Linked DNA regions of Homo sapiens: region 1 is linked to region 2. Evidence: fine-mapped expression QTL. A gene starts in region 2. The other region holds a variant in brackets. All regions are shown on one strand. Distances are from middle to middle. Region 1 has its middle 41 kb from the start of ELFN1-AS1. Region 2 holds the start of NUDT1 (nudix hydrolase 1).

Region 1 (8,856 bases), 460 kb after region 2:
GGCGAACTAGGAAACATCCTGAGCCTTAGTCGGCAGGGAAACTGTCTTAACCTTAGTACCAGGCAAGTTTATTTCTTAAATCCCGAGAGAATGTGCAGCACTGACCAGCCCTGCCACGGGCTTGGCTCCTAAATCTTCTGCTCTTTGCATGACCCCAAAATGACAAGGTGAGAATTGTAATTAATTTTATTTATTTATTTTTTGGAGATGGAGTCTCGCTTTATCACCCCGGCTGGAGTGCAGTGGTGCAATCTTGGCTCACTGCAACCTCTGCCTCCCAGGTTCAAGCAATTCTCCTGCCTCAGCCTCCTGAGTAGCTGGGATTACAGGTGCCCGCCGCCATACCCAGCTAATTTTTATATTTTTAGTAGAGATGGGGTTTCACCATGTTGGCCGGGCTGGTCTTGAACTCCTGACCTCAGGTGATCTGCCTGCCTCGGCCTCCCAAAATGTTGGGATTACAGGCGTGAGCCACCGTGCCCAACTGAGAATTGTAATTTAATGTGGATTTGTAGTGCCTCAGGAACCTGCCCAAAACAAACACATTTTCCTCTGGAGGAATATGCCTCAACCCAGGCCTTAGAGAATGTCCAAGGTCAAGTTCAAATATATATTTACATATAATATGTACAATAATATGATTTTAATAAAAAAACTACCAGAAAGCAAGACACCATGTAAAAGATCAGCCCAAATAACAAATAGAACTTGGCCCAGAAAGACCTGGGATATTGGTCTTAATGAAAACAGCATATAAAACACAACGTTTAATATTTTTAAAGACCTGAAATAGGGAAATGAAAACATAGTAAGAGAATTTAAAAACTAGGAAAGAAACAAAGTAAAACAAATATAGTCATGAATAAATCTTAAATCACTGGGAAGATTAGACAGCAGATAAATACAGCTAAACAGAGAATTAGAAAATTGGGGCCGGGTACAGTGGCTCACACCTGTAATCCCAGCACTTTGGGAAGTCGAGGCAGGTGGATCACCTGAGATCAGGAGGTAGAGATCAGCCTGGCCAACATGGCAAAACGTTGTCACTACTAAAAATATAAAAATTAGCCAGACATGGTGGCACATATCTGTAATCCCAGCTACTTCGAAGGTTGAGGCAGGAGAATCACTTGAACCCGGGAGATGGAGGTTGAGATTGAGCTGAGATTGAGCCACTGCACTCCAGCCTGGGCAACAGAGTGAGACTCTGTCTCGAAAAAAAAAAAAAAAAAAAAAAGAAAAAGAAAAAGAAAAAGAAAAAATTGGCAGACTAGAAGGTAGACCTGCGGAAAATCCACAGACTGCAGCACAAGGGCTGAACACAGACTGACACAGCTGAAGGGAGAATTAGTAGACTGGAAGTTGATATTACAGGGAATGTAGCACCAAGAAAATCAGAGGTGAAAAGACAGGCTCTGAGACACAGAAGGTCAGGGGAGAAGGTCCGGCACAGGGCTAATTGGTGCTGCAGAAAGAAATTCTGCACAGAATAGGAGAGAAGCACTGTCAGGAGGGATAATGGCAAAGGATTTCCTAGAATGAATGAAAGACATAGTCTTTCAGATAAGGAAACCCAGATGAATCCAAGCAGGAAGAGTAGAAATCCATTCAGAGGTGCCTCATAGTGGAACTGCAGAACATGACACACAGGGCTTAAAAGCTGCACCAGAGAACATACAGGTCACCCATACACTACAACAAACAGACCACCTACGACTTCCTATCACACATAAAAGAAGCAAAAAAGGAACAGGAACAACTATCTTCCAAGTTTAGACAGAAAAAAACTGTTAAAGAAAAGCTCTAAAATTGTATGCCCACGGCCAGGCGTGGTGGCTCATGCCTATAATCCCAGCCGAGGCAGGTGGATCACCTGAGGTCAGGAGTTCGAGACCAGCCTGGCCAACATGGTGAAACCCCATCTCTACTAAAAATACAAAATATTAGTTGGGTGTAGTGGCAGGTGCCTGTAGTCCCAGCTACTCAGGAGGCTGAGGCAGGAGAATTGCTTGAACCTGAGAGGTGGAGGTTGCAGTGAGCCGCGACTGCACCACTGCCCTCTAGCCTGGGTGACAGAGCAAGACTCTGTCTCAAAAAAATAAAAATAAAATAATAAATAATAAAAATAAAAAACAAAAAAGACACTCCTAAAATGTTAGTACAGGGATTGGTTGAAAAAAGAACGAAAAAATACAGTACAGGGATTGGTTGAATGAAAAAATACAGTACAGAGATTGGTTGAATGAAAAAATATGGTACAGGGATTGGTTGAAAAAAGAATGAAAAATATTCTTTTTTTTTTGGAGACTGAAATACAGTACAGGATTGGTTGAAAAACACAGTACAGGGATTGGTTGAAAAATACAGTACAGGGATTGGTTGAATGAAAAAATACAGTACAGGGATTGGTTGAAAAAATACAGTACAGGGATTGGTTGAATGAAAAAATACAGTACAGGGATTGGTTGAAAAAAGAATGAAAATATTCTTTTTTTTGTGTGAGACTGAAATACAGTACAGGATTGGTTGAAAAACACAGTACAGGGATTGGTTGAAAAATACAGTACAGGGATTGGGTGAATGAAAAAATACAGTACAGGGATTGGTTGAAAAAAGAATGAAAAATATTCTTTTTGTTTTTGTTTTTTTTTTTTTTTTGGAGACGGAGTTTGCTCTTGTTGCCTAGTCTGGAGTGCAGTGGCACAATCTCGGCTCACTGCAACCTCCACCCCCGGGTTCAAGTGATTCTCCTGCCTCAGCCTCCCGAGTCACTAGGATTACCGGCATGCACCACCAAGCCCGGCTAATTTTGTATTTTTAGTAGAGACGGGGTTTCTCCACGTTGGTCAGGCTGGTCTCGAACTCCCAACCTCATCAGGTGATCCACCCACCTCGGCCTCCCAAAGTGCTGGGATTACAGGCGTGAGCCACTGTGCCCAGCCAGGAAAATAATATTCTGATCAAAATGCAAAAAGCATTGCCAGGGATAAAGAGGTCACAATATGGCGCTGACTCAGGAGAACTACAGAAGAATTCTGAACGTGTATGTACCTATTAGGGTAACTTTAAATTTTATAAAGAAAGCAAATTACACAAGAAATGGCTACAAGAAGAAACTGATCAATCCAGCAGCACACAGGGAGATTTTAACACGCCTCCTTCAGTAATTGATAGAACAAGCAAATAAAAATCAGTAAGGATTTAGAAGATCTGAGCGACAAAGTAACAAACTTGATCCGCAAGATATTTATAGGATTCTGTATACAATAACCGGAGAATATGCTTTCTTCTCCAGGGCCCAAGAAACATTATAGAACTGACTACATATTCAGCCATCAATCAAACCTAAATAGACCTGGAAGGACTGGTACCATAGTAACAGCATTCTCTGAGCACAACGCCAAGTAGTTTAGAAGTCAATAACAATGAAAGAAACCTAAAGCCTAAAAATCTTAATAAATCTAGAAATTTAAAAACATATTTCTAATTACCCACGGGTAAAAAAGTCTCATAATGGAAATTCAGAAATACTTAAGACTAAATAGTGAAAATACCAAAAATGATCATGAATTGTAACACCATATGGTGATAAGTACTTTGTAGTCATAAACGCATATATTAGAAGAAAATCCCCTAAAAATTAATAAGTACCCAACTTAAAAAGTTAGAACAGGAAAATAATTCCAAAGAAAATGAAAGGAAGATAATAAAGGCAACCAGAAATTAATAAAATAGAAAATAAAAATACAATGGGGAGGAATTATAGAGTTGATTTTTTGGAAGAACTAATATAGCTGAACTAAACCTCTAGCAAGACTAATCAATTTTTTTAAAAAATAGAAAACACAAGAACTATTGGGATAGAGAAAATGAACATTACTACACAGGAGAGTAGAGGCTGAAAAGTTAATAAGGGAATATTATGGGCTGGGCGCAGTGGCTCACGCCTGTAATCCCAGCACTTTGGGAGGCTGAGCGGGGGGGGGGGGGGGCAGATCACCAGAGGTCAGGAGTTCGAGACCAGCCTGACCCATATGGTGAAATCCTGTCTCTACTAAAAATATAAAAAATCAGCTGGGCGTGGTGTCAGGCACCTATAGTCCCAGCCACTCGGGAGGCTGAGGCAGGAGAATGGCATGAACTCAGGAGGTGGTGCTTGCAGTGAGCCGAGATCCCGCCACTGTACTCCAGCCTGGGCAACAGAGCAAGACTCTGTCTCAAAAAAAAAAAAAAAAAAAAAATTAGCTGGGCTTGGTGGCACTTGCCTGTAACCCCAGCTACTTGAGAGGCTGAGACAGGAGAATCACTTGAATCTGGGAGGTGGAGGTTGCAGTGAGCCGAGATTGCACCACTGCACTCCAGCCTGGGTGACACAGTGAGACTCCATCTGAAAAAAAAAAAAAAAGAAAAAGGGAATATTATGAACATCTTTTTGCAAATAAATTTGATAATTAGATGAAATGGACACATTCCCAGGAAAATACAAATTCCCAAAACAGACTCAGAAGAGACATCCTGAATCGCACTATAAACAACAACAAAGATTTAATCAGTATTTTAGAAATCTTCTCACAATACAAAAACGAGGCTCAGCTTGTTTTGTGAGCAAGTTCTAGCAAAGCATTCCAGGCACAGATGATTTCCATCTTATTCAAAGTCTTCCAGGAAAGACAGCCAAAGGGAGTGCTCCCGAGCAGATTCTCTGATGATTAGAAAATCCTTGTGCCCGATAGACAAGGGTGGTAAGAGAAGTGAAGTTAATGACACTCTCTTTAATAAGCATATACACAAAATCTCTGAAACAACAACAACAAAAATCAAACCATCTAGCAGTGATGTGGGACAGGCGAGCCCCAGAGTAGGGCTTAGCTGGTGAGGGTTCTTAGCTTCGCCTAGGACAGACTACAAGGGAAAGCTGGCAGTGGGGTAGAATGAGGCAGCTTTACTGAGGTGGCGGGGTTACAGCCCCATGGCTGTTCCCACAGGGCAGGGCCACCCCGCGGGCAGTGTGTCCAGAGTAACAACTTGGGAGGAGTTCTGCAATCATACCTACACCCACTTTCTTTCTTTCTTTTTTTTTTTTTGAGACAGAGTCTCGCTCTGTCACCCAGGCTGGAGTGCAGTGGTGCTATCTTGGCTCACTGCAACCT[C/T]CACCTCCTGGGTTCAAGCGATTCTCCTGCCTCACCCTCCCGAGTAGCCGGGATTACAGGTGCCCGCCACCACACCCGGCTAATTTTTGTATTTTTAGTGGAGACAGGGTTTCACCATGTTGGCCAGGCTGGTGCCAAACTCCTGACCTCAAGTGATCCGCCCTCCTTGTCCTCCCAAAGTGCTGGGATTACAGCTGTGAGCCACTACGCCCAAACTTCACTTTCAAATATACGTAAGTTAAAGGGCAAGTTATTTAGAAATTTCTAGAAAAGGGATGATAACTTCCAGGTCACTGCCATGAAAAGGGGTGGTAACTTTCGGGTGTTGCCATGGCAATGCTAAACTGTTGCGGCGCTGGTGGGCCTGTCTTAGGGAGAAGAGCTTTCAGTGCCTCTTCTGTGTTTTAGCTAGTCTTCAATCAGGTCTGGAGTTGACTCCCACCTCCTACCTCAATAGTGTTATATGTACCGTCAAGCAATGCTCAACCCTGGGGATACATTCTGAGACATGCGTAGAATATTATATGCATATTGCTATAATGTTATAGCACCATATCTGTTTGTCTGCACGCATGTTGTTGGACGATTTCGTCACGTGTAAGTGACCTTCCACAGATCCAGTAGTGTACTCTAAGATGGCAGAGCCTACCCCATGGCCAGGCTGTACGGTGTGGCCTGTGGCTCCTGGGCTCCAGGGCTCCAAATGTGCACAGCAGGTGACAGCACTGAACGCTGCAGGCAACTGCAGCACAATACTGTATGTCTGTATGTCTCAACACATCTAAACACAGAGAAGGTGCCGTGAAAACACAGGATCAGTGACTTTAAAGTGGCGTACCTGATATGGCACTTAGCACGAACGGAGCTTGCGGGAGTGGAAGTTGCTCTGGGTGAGTCGGTGAGAGAGGGTGAGTGAGTGTGAAGGCCTGGGACGTTACTGTGCACCACTGGAGACTATTTTTTTGAGACAGGGTCTCGCTCTGTCGCCTAGGCTGGAGTGTAGTGGCACCATCTCGGCTCACTGCAACCTCTATTTCCCAGGTTCAAGCGATTCTTCTGCCTCAGCCTCCTGAGTAGCTGGGACTACAGGCGTGCACCATCAAACCCTGCTAATTTTTGTATTTTTAGTAGAGATGGGGTTTTGCCATGTTGGCCAAGCTGGTCTCGAACTCCTGACTTCTTGTGATCCAACTGCCTCGGCCTCCCAAAATGCTGGGATTATAGGTGTGAGCCACCCTTCCTGGCCTACTGAAGACTTTATAAACACTGTATACTTAAGCTATACTCTGTTTATTAAAAATATTTTTTCTTCAATAATAAAGTAACCTTAGCTTACTGTTACTTTGTAAACTTTAAAAAAATTTTTACTTTTTGGTAATACTTAGCTTAAAACACAAACACGTTGTACAGCTGTACAAAAATATTTTCTTTCTTTATTTTGTAAGTAAGTTTTTTTCTATTAAGGTTGGTGCAAAAATAATACCATTACTTTTTAATCCCATTACTTTTAATGGCAAAAACTGCAATTACTTTTGCACCAACCTAGTATTTTTGAAACTTTTTTCTACCTTTTTTTTTTTTTTTTTTTTTTGATGGAGTCTCGCTGTGTCATCCAGGCTGGAGTGCAGTGGCACGATCTCAGCTCACTGCAACCTCCGCCTCCCAGGTTCAAGCAATTCTCCTGCCTCAGCCTCCTGGGAAGCTAGGATTACAGGCACATGCCACTATGCCTGGCTAATTTTTGTATTTTTAGTAGAGACGGGGTTTCACCATGTTGTCCAGGCTGGTCTTGAACTCCTGACCTCAGGTTATCCTCCTGCCTCGGCCTCCCAAAGTGCTGGGATTACAGGCATGACCCACTGTACCCTTTTTTCTACTTAAAAAATTTTTTGTTACAAACAGAAACACACATATTAGCCCAGTATTAGCCTAGGCCTACACGGGGTCAGGATCGCCAATATCACTGACTTCCCCTCCATATCCTGTCCCAATGGAGGGCTTCAGCAATCCCTCCTGAAGGACCTGCCTGAGGCTGCTTTATAGTTACTTTGTTTTTGTTTTTAATCAGTAGTAGTATACTCTAAGATCATGATAAAAAAGTTGGCCGGGTGTGGCGGCTCACGCTTGTAATCCCAGCACTTTGGGAGGCCGAGGCGGGCGGATCATGAGGTCAGGAGATCGATACCATCCTGGCTAACACAGTGAAACCCCATCTCTACTAAAAACACAAAAGATTAGCAGGGCGCGGTGGCAGGCGCCTGTAGTCTCAGCTACTCGGGAGGCTGAGGCGGGAGAATAGCGTGAACCCGGGAGGCAGAGCTTGCAGTGAGCCGAGATCGCGCCACTGCACTCCAGCCTGGGCGACAGAGTGAGACTCCATCTCAAAAAAAAAAAAAAAAAAAAAAGTATAGGATAGTATATACATGAACTAGTGACACAGTGGTTTATCATCATTTGCAAGTACTGTGCACTGGACGTAATTGTATGTGCTAGACTTTCCTATGACTGGTGGTGCAGAGGGCTTGTTTACCCCAGCATCACGGGTGCGTACACACACATACACACACGAGTAACGTACTGCACGGTGACGTGACGATGGCCACCACAGCACCAGGCGACAGGGAATCTTCAGATCCACTACAATCTCTCATGAGACCCCTGTCGGATGTGCAGTTAGTCACTGACCAAAATGTTTCTACGCGGCGCACGACTGTGTATACATTTGGTCATAATGCTTTTCTAAAAAACAGTGTCTCACTCTGTTGCCCAGGCTGGAGTGCAGTGACACAATCATAGCTCACTGCAGCCTTGAACTCCTGGGCTCAAGTGATCCTCCCACCTCAGCCTCCCAAGTAGCTGGGACTACAGGTGCATGCCACCACACCTGGCTAATTTTTTTTTATTTTTTGTAGAGATGGGATCTTGCTATGTTGCCCCCAGGCTGGTTTCAAACTCCTGGCCTCAAGCGATCCTCCCGCCTTGGCCTCCCAAAGTGCTGGGATTATAGGTGTGAGCCACTGTGCCTGGCCCATAATGTGCTTTATCTATATAATTTGGTTATAATGTGATAGCATGATCTCTTTATGTGTGTGCCTGTATCTGTAACACATTATGACCAAATCAAGTTTATCCCTGGATTGAAACGGTGCCTTAACATTAGGAAATACATTTATACATTCTCCATAGTAACAGAATAAGGAAGGAACATCTCTGGTCATCTCGCTAGCATAGGAAAAATGCTTTTTTAATTTTGTTTTTATTTTTTGAGACAAGGGCTCTCTGTGTCACCCAGGCTGGAGTGCAGTGGTGCAATCACAGCTCACTGCAGGCTTGACTTCCCAGGCTCAAGCGATCCTCCCTCCTCAGCTTCCCAAGTATCTGGAATCACAGGTGTGCAACCACCATGCTTGGCTAGTATTTTTTAAACTTTCACTGGAGACAGGGTCTCCAACGTCTGACTGGTCAGACAGTGTTGCTCAGGCTGGTCTCAAACTCCTGAACTAAAGTGATCCTCCTGCCTCGGCTTCCCAAAGTGCTACAATTATAGGCGTGAGGCACTGCACCTGGCCAGGAAAAACATTTAAAAAAACATAATATCTATGTATCCATAATAAAAATGCATAGCAAAGGGAAGACAACTTCCTTAACCCCAAACCTCAGCCACATGGTATAGCAGCGATGACTTCTGGAAGAACACACAGGATTT
Region 2 (8,856 bases):
ATCGTTTGAGCCCAAGAGTTTGAGGCTGCAGTGAGCCAAGAGTGTGCCATGGGTGAGATCCCACCTCTGGAGAAAAAAAGAGAAATGAATCGGAAAAGTAGAGCCCCCTTTTATGTAATAAGGGCGGCTACTGCAACTTACTTTAGCTGTACCTGCACACCTGAGTGTGTACACTCTATCAGAGTACAAAACGTATTTCTTACTGCAGGTTGTGATGAAAAAATTGGAAAGCCACTAGGCTGCAGCGTCCTGGCTTTCCTCCGTGCCAGGACCCTCTTTACTCTGTAGTTCTCCTCTCCAGGCAAGCTGGCCTACCTTTCTCAGAACAAAAACACGAACGGGGGCTAACGTCTGTGCAGCGATGTTTACACAGATGATCTCATTTACCCTGTGAGGGTTGAGGGGCGTCTGGAGGACTGTGTGATCTTGGGTAAACGGCTCAACCTCTCTGGGCTTCAGTTCCTTCCTAGGTGAAGCTGGCTGTGTTGAGGATGCAGTGAGGCTTTGTGCACAGCGAGTGTGAGATGAAAGCGATCATCAGCTCCACTGAACAGACAGAGGAACCAAGTGACTGACGAGCCCTTCGGCAACAGTGAGGGTGCTGGGAGGGTTCAATTCAAGCTGCTGCACAGAGGCTTCCAGATACGCCCTGCAGCCCCCAGCACCACCGCACCACAACAGCTAACACGCACTCAGCACGCACCGCACACCGCGCACCGTTCTAAGTCCTTCGAGTTCATTTCCTCATTTTATCTTCACAAGAGTCCGAAGGGCTGCGGACTGTTCTTCATTCTGAGATGAAGACACTGAGGCTCACGCTTAACCCCCTGCTCCAGGTCACTTAGCTCTTAGTGGTGAAACCAAGGGTGTGGCCCTACAGCCCGAATCCCTGTGCCCTGGGAAAGCCGGTTCTATGGCCAGACCTGCCCCATCCTTACCTCCTAGCCCCATCCTCGATGGTCTCTCCTTCTTGCACTTTGCCCCCAAAGCCATTCCACCGGCCGGCCCCGAAGCCTCGCTTTTTCATGCCCAGGAGAACTCGCTGAGGCTGCAGGACCAGCACCAGGGTATAGAGCCTGGAGGCGCCCATGGTCCCTGGGTTCTGAAAGGAAGGTGAGAGGGCAGAGTCAGCCATGACGTGCGTGGAGGAAGCACGTGCCAGGGGCCAGGAGGAAGGGGACGTGCTCTGGGAGGCAGTGGGGGGCGGGGGGGTATGCTGTAACTCCCCAGCCCTGCCACGTGTGGCTTCCCTTGTGGCAGGTGGAAAACTGCCATTGAACCAGTGATTTTCTGGGGTAGAAACAGAACCCAGTGGTCAGCAGGGCTGATCAAGCAGAGCAGAGGCCGGCGCTACCTTCCTTCTCCACAAGTCAGTACTCAGGTGCAGAGGACAACATCACCTTTCCAGAGCGTGCTCTTGCTCCTGCGTCTACCCCCAGGAACCCCCTGCTTATAGGCACACAGTGAGGAACAACAGTCCCCGTGCCTGATTGGCACCAAAATAACCACGCAGTTTATCCTGTGGTCCTCAGGTCAGGCCTTTGGATTAACAGGAACTTCTTTCAGTCTAGTGGGACCTGGCCTCTCTGTAGCAGGCTTCCAGATTCCCAGGAAATGTGTGGCTGTAGACACAGGTCCACCCAGCCAGGCCCGGCTAGTCCTCCCTCCTGTGATAGGAGTTTATACCCCACCCACTCTGCTCCTGCTGTGGCTACTGTGGGACCTGGCACCCAGGGGGGCCACTGGAAGTCACAAGGGTCCTTCCTGCTCCCATAGGTGTGCAGGTCCAGGTCCAGAGGACTCTGAGGGCGATGCCTCCGCCAGGTCCCTGCTGAAAAAAGGACCCTGGAGAAATGCTGGAGGGCCAGGACCAACTTTCCTTTATTTATTTTGAGACAAGATCCTGCTCTGTTGCCCAGGCTGGAGGAGAGTGGCGTGATCGCGGTTCACTGTAACCTCCGCCTCCCTGGCTGAAGCCATCCTCCTGCCTCAGCATCCCACATAGCTGGGACCACAGGCATGAGCCGCCACACCCAGCTAATTTCTGTATTTTTAGTAGAGATGGGGTTTTGTCACGTTGCCCAGGCTGGTCACGAACTCCTGAGCTCAAGCGATCCACCCACCTCAGCCTCCCAAAGTGCTGAGATTACAGGCGTGAGCCACTGCGCCCAGCCAGGACCAACTTTTCTGGGGTCCACACCTGGACAAGACACAGGGTTCAGGACCAGTGATCCTTCTTGGAAGTTGTGGTGTCTGAGAAAAGGGACCAGATGATAAGGAAGGGGGCAGGGAAGTGCTGGGTAGAGGAGGGCGTGGTCTCTGGCCAGGGCTCCACACCCAGGCCTGTGCCCAGGGACCTGGGTGAGGACAGGCATTTCTGTTTTTTTGCCCAAATGTTGCATTTCCCGAGCCCGCCACGTCCCCGTCCTGTGCCTATAAAAAAACCCCAGTGGTTTTTTATAGTGGGCAGAGACACAAGCCGCTGGACGTCAAGAGGACGTGGAAAGCACACCAACAGGCACCAGCAGGCCATCAACTGATGGAACCATGAGTTTGGCAGGGGCGGTCAGAGGAGAGCCCAGGCTGCTCAGCAGCCCGACTCCAGGGGAAAATCACCTTCCCACTCCAACTGCCTTCTGGCTCCCCCATCTGCTGAGGGCTAATTCCACTCATAAAACCTTGCACTCACTCTCCAAGCCGCCGTGTGATCTGATTGCTCCAGTACATCAAGGCAAGAAACCTAGGGATACAGAAAGCCCTCTGTCCTTGCGATAAGGCAGGGAGTCTAACAGCTGACTAACACAAGCCACCTACAAGGCTAAACTGAAAGAGCACCCTCTAACACATGCCTGCTGGGGCTTCAGGAGCTGCAAACATTCACCCCTAGACACTGCCGTGGGGTGGGAGCCCCTCAGCCTGCCTGTCTGTATGTTCCCCTAGAGGCTTGAGAAGCGGGGCACTGAAGAAGTGAGCCACATCCTCATCGCACGCCCTTCGAGGAGGACAAGGGAACCTTTCCCATTTCACTGAGACTGGGTCCTGGTGGCGGAGGCAGGTCAGACAGGGTAAATGGGTTTGTGGCTTAGTTTCACACCAGGCCCGTGTACTTTGTCCCGACACTGATCTGTTTCTGCCAGAAGCCACGGTTTCCAAAGTAAATTTTTGTGATTTACTCCTGGTCTCCCCCAAGCCTCCGCCCCGCTCTCCTTGTCTCTCTCCCAAACCCCCGGCCCCGCTCTCCTCGTCTCCCTCGAGCCCCCGACCCTGCTCTTCTGGTCTCCTTCGAGCTCCCGGCCCCGCTCTCCCCCAAGCCCATGGCTCAGCTCCCCTAGTCTCCTGCCGCCCGCTGGCCCGGCTCCCCTCCCTGGTCACCACGACTCCTGGAATCCCCGCGCGCGCTTTTCGTACCTGCACCGCCGCTTCCGGGGGCGTGGCCTCTGACCGGAAGTGAGGCCAGGCACTTCCGGCGGCGCGCTGCAGGCGCGGGGAACACCAATGGCGGGGTGAGCTGGGCGCTGCTGCTGCGCGTGCAGACAGCGGGAGTGGTTGGGGGTCCGCCCGGTCGCCTTCCTCGGTCCTGGCCTCGGGGCTGGGTGCCGAGCGCTGGGCACCGTCCCCGCACTCAGCGAGCGCGACAGGGGCGAGGCCAGGATTCCGGGTCGCAGTTCCCCGGGAGGAGGGCGCCCTCAGGTCTCCAGGGGCAGGGCCGGCGGGGCCGTGGGGAGGCCGGGGCCGGCGGCGGAGTCCAGGTGGGGGGCGCAGCGCCGGGGCCCAGATCCAAGGCGCCGGGGGCGAGCCCGGGGCGGGATTTCGCTTCTGGGCCGGGTAGCTCCATTGCCCGCGCTTCCTGGGCTGTCGAGTGGGCCCTGGCCCCCGGGACCGGCTTGTGCCATTTTCCCGGGAGACCCCTTAAGCGAGGGGAAGACAGCGACTCACGGTCAGCAGTCAGTGCCTCCTGGCTTGTCAGCACGCTTTGGTGTTGCAGAAGCTAGAAGCTTTGGCCTTGGAGCCATGAGGGTGGTAACTTTTATTTATTTATTTAAATCAGAAAGATGGACATAGAGACCGGGCTTGGTGGCCCACACCTGTCATCCCAGCACTTTGGAAGTCTGAGGCAGGAGGATCGTTTGAGCCTAGGAGTTCGAGACCAGCCTAGGCAATGTAGTGAGATGCCATCTCTAAAAAAGGTTTTTAAGAATTAAAAAAAAAAAAAAAATTAGCCCAGGCATGGTGGTGCACACCTGTAGTCCCAGCTACTCAGGAGGCTGAGGTGGGAGGTTCACTTGAGACCCAGAGGTTATGGCAGCAATCAGCTGTGATTGTGCCACTGCAACTCCAGCCTGGATGATAGCAAAACAAAAATGGCCGGGTGAGGTGGTTCACGCCTGTAATCCCAGCACTTTGGGAGGCCAAGGTGGGCTGATCGCCAGAGGTCAGGAGTTCGAGACCAGCTCGGCCAACATGGTGAAATCCCATCTCTACTGAAAATAGAAAAATTAGCCGGAAGTGGTGGCACACACCTGTAGTCTCAGCTACTCAGGAGGCTGAGGTGGGAGGTTCACTTGAGCCCCAGAGGCTGTGGCTGCAGTCAGCTGTGATCATGCCACTGCACTCCAGCCTGGGTAATAGTAAAACCCTGTCTCTAAAAAAACAAAAAGAAGAAAGAAATGCCTGGGTGCAGTGGCTTACACCTGTAATCCCAGCACTTTGGGAGGCCAAGGCGGGCAGATCAGCGGAGGTCAGGAGTTTGAGACCAGCCTGGCCAACATGGTGGAACCCATCTATACTGAAAATACAAACATTAGCCGGACATGGTAGCAGGTGTGCCTGTAATCCCAGCTACTTGGGAGGCTGGGGCAGGAGAATTGCTTGAACCCGGGAGTCGGAGGCTGCAGTGAGCTGTCACTGCACTCCAGCCTGGGCGCCAGAGTGAGACTCCGTCTTAAAAAAAGAAAAAGAGGACATAGAACTTCCTTGGTGAGGTTGTTGTCAGAGTTAAACAAGGGGAGGTGTGTATAGCTTCCACCTGCTTAGCTATTGTGGGCTGTGAATAAATTGTTACATTTATTGTAACAATTGTCTAGAGAATCTTGGAAATTGTCCTTCAACGATTGACACAGGTTTAGTTCAATTTTATTTAAGACATGTAGGTGAGAGGATTGTTTGAGCCCAGGAGTTCGAATCTGCGTTGAACCGTGACCTCACCACTGCACTCCAGCCTGGGCTATAGAGCGAGACCCTGTCTCGAAAAAAAGAAGAAAAAAAGAAATGTGACAGGCCAGACCCTCTGTACTAGCTGTCAAAGCCCTGGAACTAGGTCACTAAGGCAAGGATCTGTCCTTATGAGGTTTTCTTGCAGCCTGTCAGAGCCCAATGAACATTTTTGCCAGATGAGAAAATAATATTACTTTAATTAATTAATTGATGTATTTAGTTATTGTTTGAGACAGAGTCTCGCTCTGTCGCCCAGGCTGGAGTGCAGTGGCGCAATCTCGGCTCACTGCAACCTCTGCCTCCTGGGTTCAGGCGATTCTCCTGCTTCAGCCTCCCGAGTAGCTGGGTTTATAGGCATCTGCCACCACGCCAGGCTAATTTTTGCATTTTAGTAGAGACGGGGTTTCATCATGTTGGCCACGGTTGGCCAGGCTGGTCTCGAAATCCTGACCTCAGGGGATCCACCTGTCTTGGCCTCCAAAAGTGCTGGAATTACAGGTGTCTCCGAATACCCCCATATTCTGAGGTACCAAGGGTTAGGACATCAACACATTAATTTTGCGGGGACACAGTTTGGCCTGTGATGCCTGCTTTCCATCTGTGTAGCCTTATCAGTTCACCTCCCCTCCTGGGCCTTGGTGCCCCATCTCTAGAAATGAATGAGTTGATCCGAGGGCCCTCCCAGCTCATGACCTGCCGTTCTGTGTGATGCCAACCTGCCTGCTCCTCTTCTCTCCCACCAGGTACTTGAAGCTGGTGTGTGTTTCCTTTCAGCGTCAAGGGTTCCACACTGTTGGGAGTCGCTGCAAGAATCGGACAGGCGCTGAGCACCTGTGGCTGACCCGACATCTCAGGGACCCATTTGTGAAGGCTGCGAAGGTGGAGAGTTACCGGTGTCGAAGCGCCTTCAAGCTCCTGGAGGTGAACGAGAGGCACCAGATTCTGCGGCCCGGCCTTCGGGTGTTAGACTGTGGGGCAGCTCCTGGGGCCTGGAGTCAGGTGGCGGTGCAGAAGGTCAACGCCGCAGGCACAGGTGGGCCTCTGCACTGCTGTTGGCACCTTCTGGCTCCCCTGAGGCTGAGTGGGCATGGGCAAGCTGCCTTTGCCAGTGGATGCGGGATGGTGGAGCCCTTTTTTGAAGGCGTGTGCTTCCGAGTGGGTGGTTTAGCAATGGTGATGATAAAAATAGGATGCTGCCATTTTCAAAATGAAAGACAAGGTAGAAAGGTGCAGTGAACATGGAAATCACCTCGCATGAGACCGCCCGCAGGTACCAGCACCAGCATGGTGGTGTGCATCCTTCCAGGCTTGTGCATGCATAGATCCCTCACATTTTCAAAAGCGATGTTGTGCCATACTTTTCTTGCTAATTTGCAGCCTATTGGAGCTATTTTTGCTTAATGATACATACATATATGTATTATATATATATATATATATATATATATATATATATATATATATATATATATAATTATTATTGTTATTATTTTTGTTCTTCCCCCCCCTCCAGATGGAGTCTCACTCTTGCCCAGGCTGCAGTGCAATGGTGTGATCTCGGCTCACTGCAACCTCTGCCTACCTGGTTCAAGCGATTCTCCTGCCTCAGCCTCCCAAGTAGCTGGGATTACAGGCGCCCGCCACCGCACCCAGCTAATTTTTTCTTTTTGTTTTTTTAAGTAGAGATAGGGTTTCACTATGTTGGCTAGGCTGATCTCGAACTCTTGACCTCAGGTGATCTGCCCACCTCGGCCTCCCAAAGTGCTGGGATTACAGATGTGAGCCATGGTGCCCGGCTACTCTTAATGATGTATTGACATCTTTCCCCAACAGCACAGCTAAATTTCCAAGTCGCATAAGCCCTGGGGCTTTCCTGGTGGCCCCACTGGGGCTGCTCCGTCCGGAACCTAGAAGAGGCTTCATGGCCAGGGCTATGGATTCTTTGCTCTGGATGAAGCTGAGACACAGTTTTCATCTGTTTTGTATCTTAGGGTTTTGAGTAAGATTTTCTATATAAAAAGGTTCTCCTGAATAATGAGATCAGCCAACCGCCCATGCAACTGAAGACACTGTCGTCATTGGGAAAGTTTCATCCTATTCCATGTAGTGCTTGCACCGTAGGTTCTTTAACCAGCTCCCTCACTGTGGCATCAAGGTTGCTTTTGGCTTTTGGCTGGGATGCGTGTGCTGTGGTGAATATCCTTGCCATTTATGTTTCCTGCTGTAAAGCCAGGGTAGCTGCATGCACTGGCATTTGAACAGGGTGAGACAGTCCACCCAGAGCTCTCCCAAGTCTCTCCCAAATACCTTAGAGTAGGGACACTGGTCCCCATTTATTGGTGAGAAAACAGGCTCAGGGTTTCATGACTTGTTGAAAGTGCAGAAATGGAATGCTGGCCCCCTGGATCTGCACATCTGCCTCGCTGCTGGTTTGCGGTAGGTTTGCCATGAACTCTTGGTGTCTACCTGCATCCCCTTGGGTGGCCCCTGCCCATACTTAGGCGGGGATATGCCTCTTCGGGCTTTTCAACAGCATTTTTTTTTTTTTTTTTTTTTTTTGTTTATAGAGCCTCACTCTGTTGCCCAGGCTGGAGTGCAATGGCGCCATCTCGGCTCACTGTAATCTTTGCCTCCTGTGTTTAAGTGATTTCCGGCTAATTTTTGTATGTTTAGTAGAGATGAGGTTTTGCCATGTTGGCCAGGCTGGTCTCGAACTCCAGGCCTCAGGTGATCCGCCCGCCTCTGCCTCCCAGCATCCTCGAGGTGCTTCCTGGTGCTTCCATCGTGGTCAGCCTGAAAGCCTTTTTATTGTTTTTCAGCTCAACATTTATTGACTAAATAAGTGAATTTGTGTTGGAAATGTCAGTTCCTTTTCTCATTGCTGAGCTTATCACCGTGGAGTCCTCCTAGTAACTGATTTCAGTGGTTTCTGTTCCCCTAAGTGCTCTTGAGATGAAGCAGGAGAGTGGCCCAGCGTGCCTTGTAGGAGGAAGTGACAGAAGGAGAGAGCGTGAGCGTGATCTGCCTGGGCTTGTCCTCCCGGAAGTCACAAGCATGCAGCCAAAGCTGTTTGCCTTCGGTGGAAATTTCCGAAGGTTGTAACATACTGGATATTATAGGAGTGAAAGCTCAGGAGCATAAAGTGAGGCGTGAGGCCGGGCGCAGTGGCTCACACCTGTAATCCCAGTACTTTGGGAGGCCAAGGGGAGGATCACCTGAGGTCAGGAGTTCGAGACCAGCCTGGGCAATATGGTGAAACCCCCGTCTCTACAAAAAATTAGCCAGGTGTGGTGGCATGTTCCTGTGGTCCTAGCTCCTTGGGAAGCTGAGGTGGCAGGGGTCGCTCGAACCTGGGGAAGTCAAGGCTGCAGTGAGCTGAGGCCGTGCAACGGAGTGAGGCCTTGTCTCACACACACACACACAAAGACACACAAAGATAACTTGCTGATATTTGAGTAACACCAGTTTGCTAAAACTAAAAAGATGCCTTTGTGTCACCTTACGTAAAACAAGACTTGTTGCCTATAACTGATCTCAGCATCTGCCTCCCCCTCTTCTCACTCTGTACCTACATTCAAAGCCCCCTCTTCACAAGCCCAACGCCCCCATCTCCCCAACAGTCCCCTCCACTGAGGAGGGCCG

What was found. PIP is the estimated chance that this variant, and not a neighbour inherited with it, causes the effect.
Region 1: its variant is the best candidate, but not a certain one, in a credible set for the expression of NUDT1 in whole blood (TOPMed, PIP 0.73).

What each region holds. Positions count from the first base shown.
Region 1 is chr7:1,778,542-1,787,397 of GRCh38, reverse strand. No RefSeq gene overlaps it. Among named protein-coding and RNA genes, the nearest start is that of ELFN1-AS1, 41 kb to the right of the region's middle. The variant C/T (reference allele first, on the strand shown) is at 5,151.
Region 2 is chr7:2,236,809-2,245,664 of GRCh38, reverse strand. NUDT1 (nudix hydrolase 1) reads right to left here and starts at 3,439. Exons shown (of 4, transcript NM_002452.4): 1 at 3,409-3,439; 2 at 939-1,102. The coding sequence starts at 1,090. MRM2 (mitochondrial rRNA methyltransferase 2) reads left to right here and starts at 3,460. Exons shown (of 3, transcript NM_013393.3): 1 at 3,460-3,503; 2 at 5,958-6,247. The coding sequence starts at 3,496. RefSeq lists a silencer at 3,534-3,753 and enhancers at 4,076-4,927, 7,966-8,365, 7,651-8,850.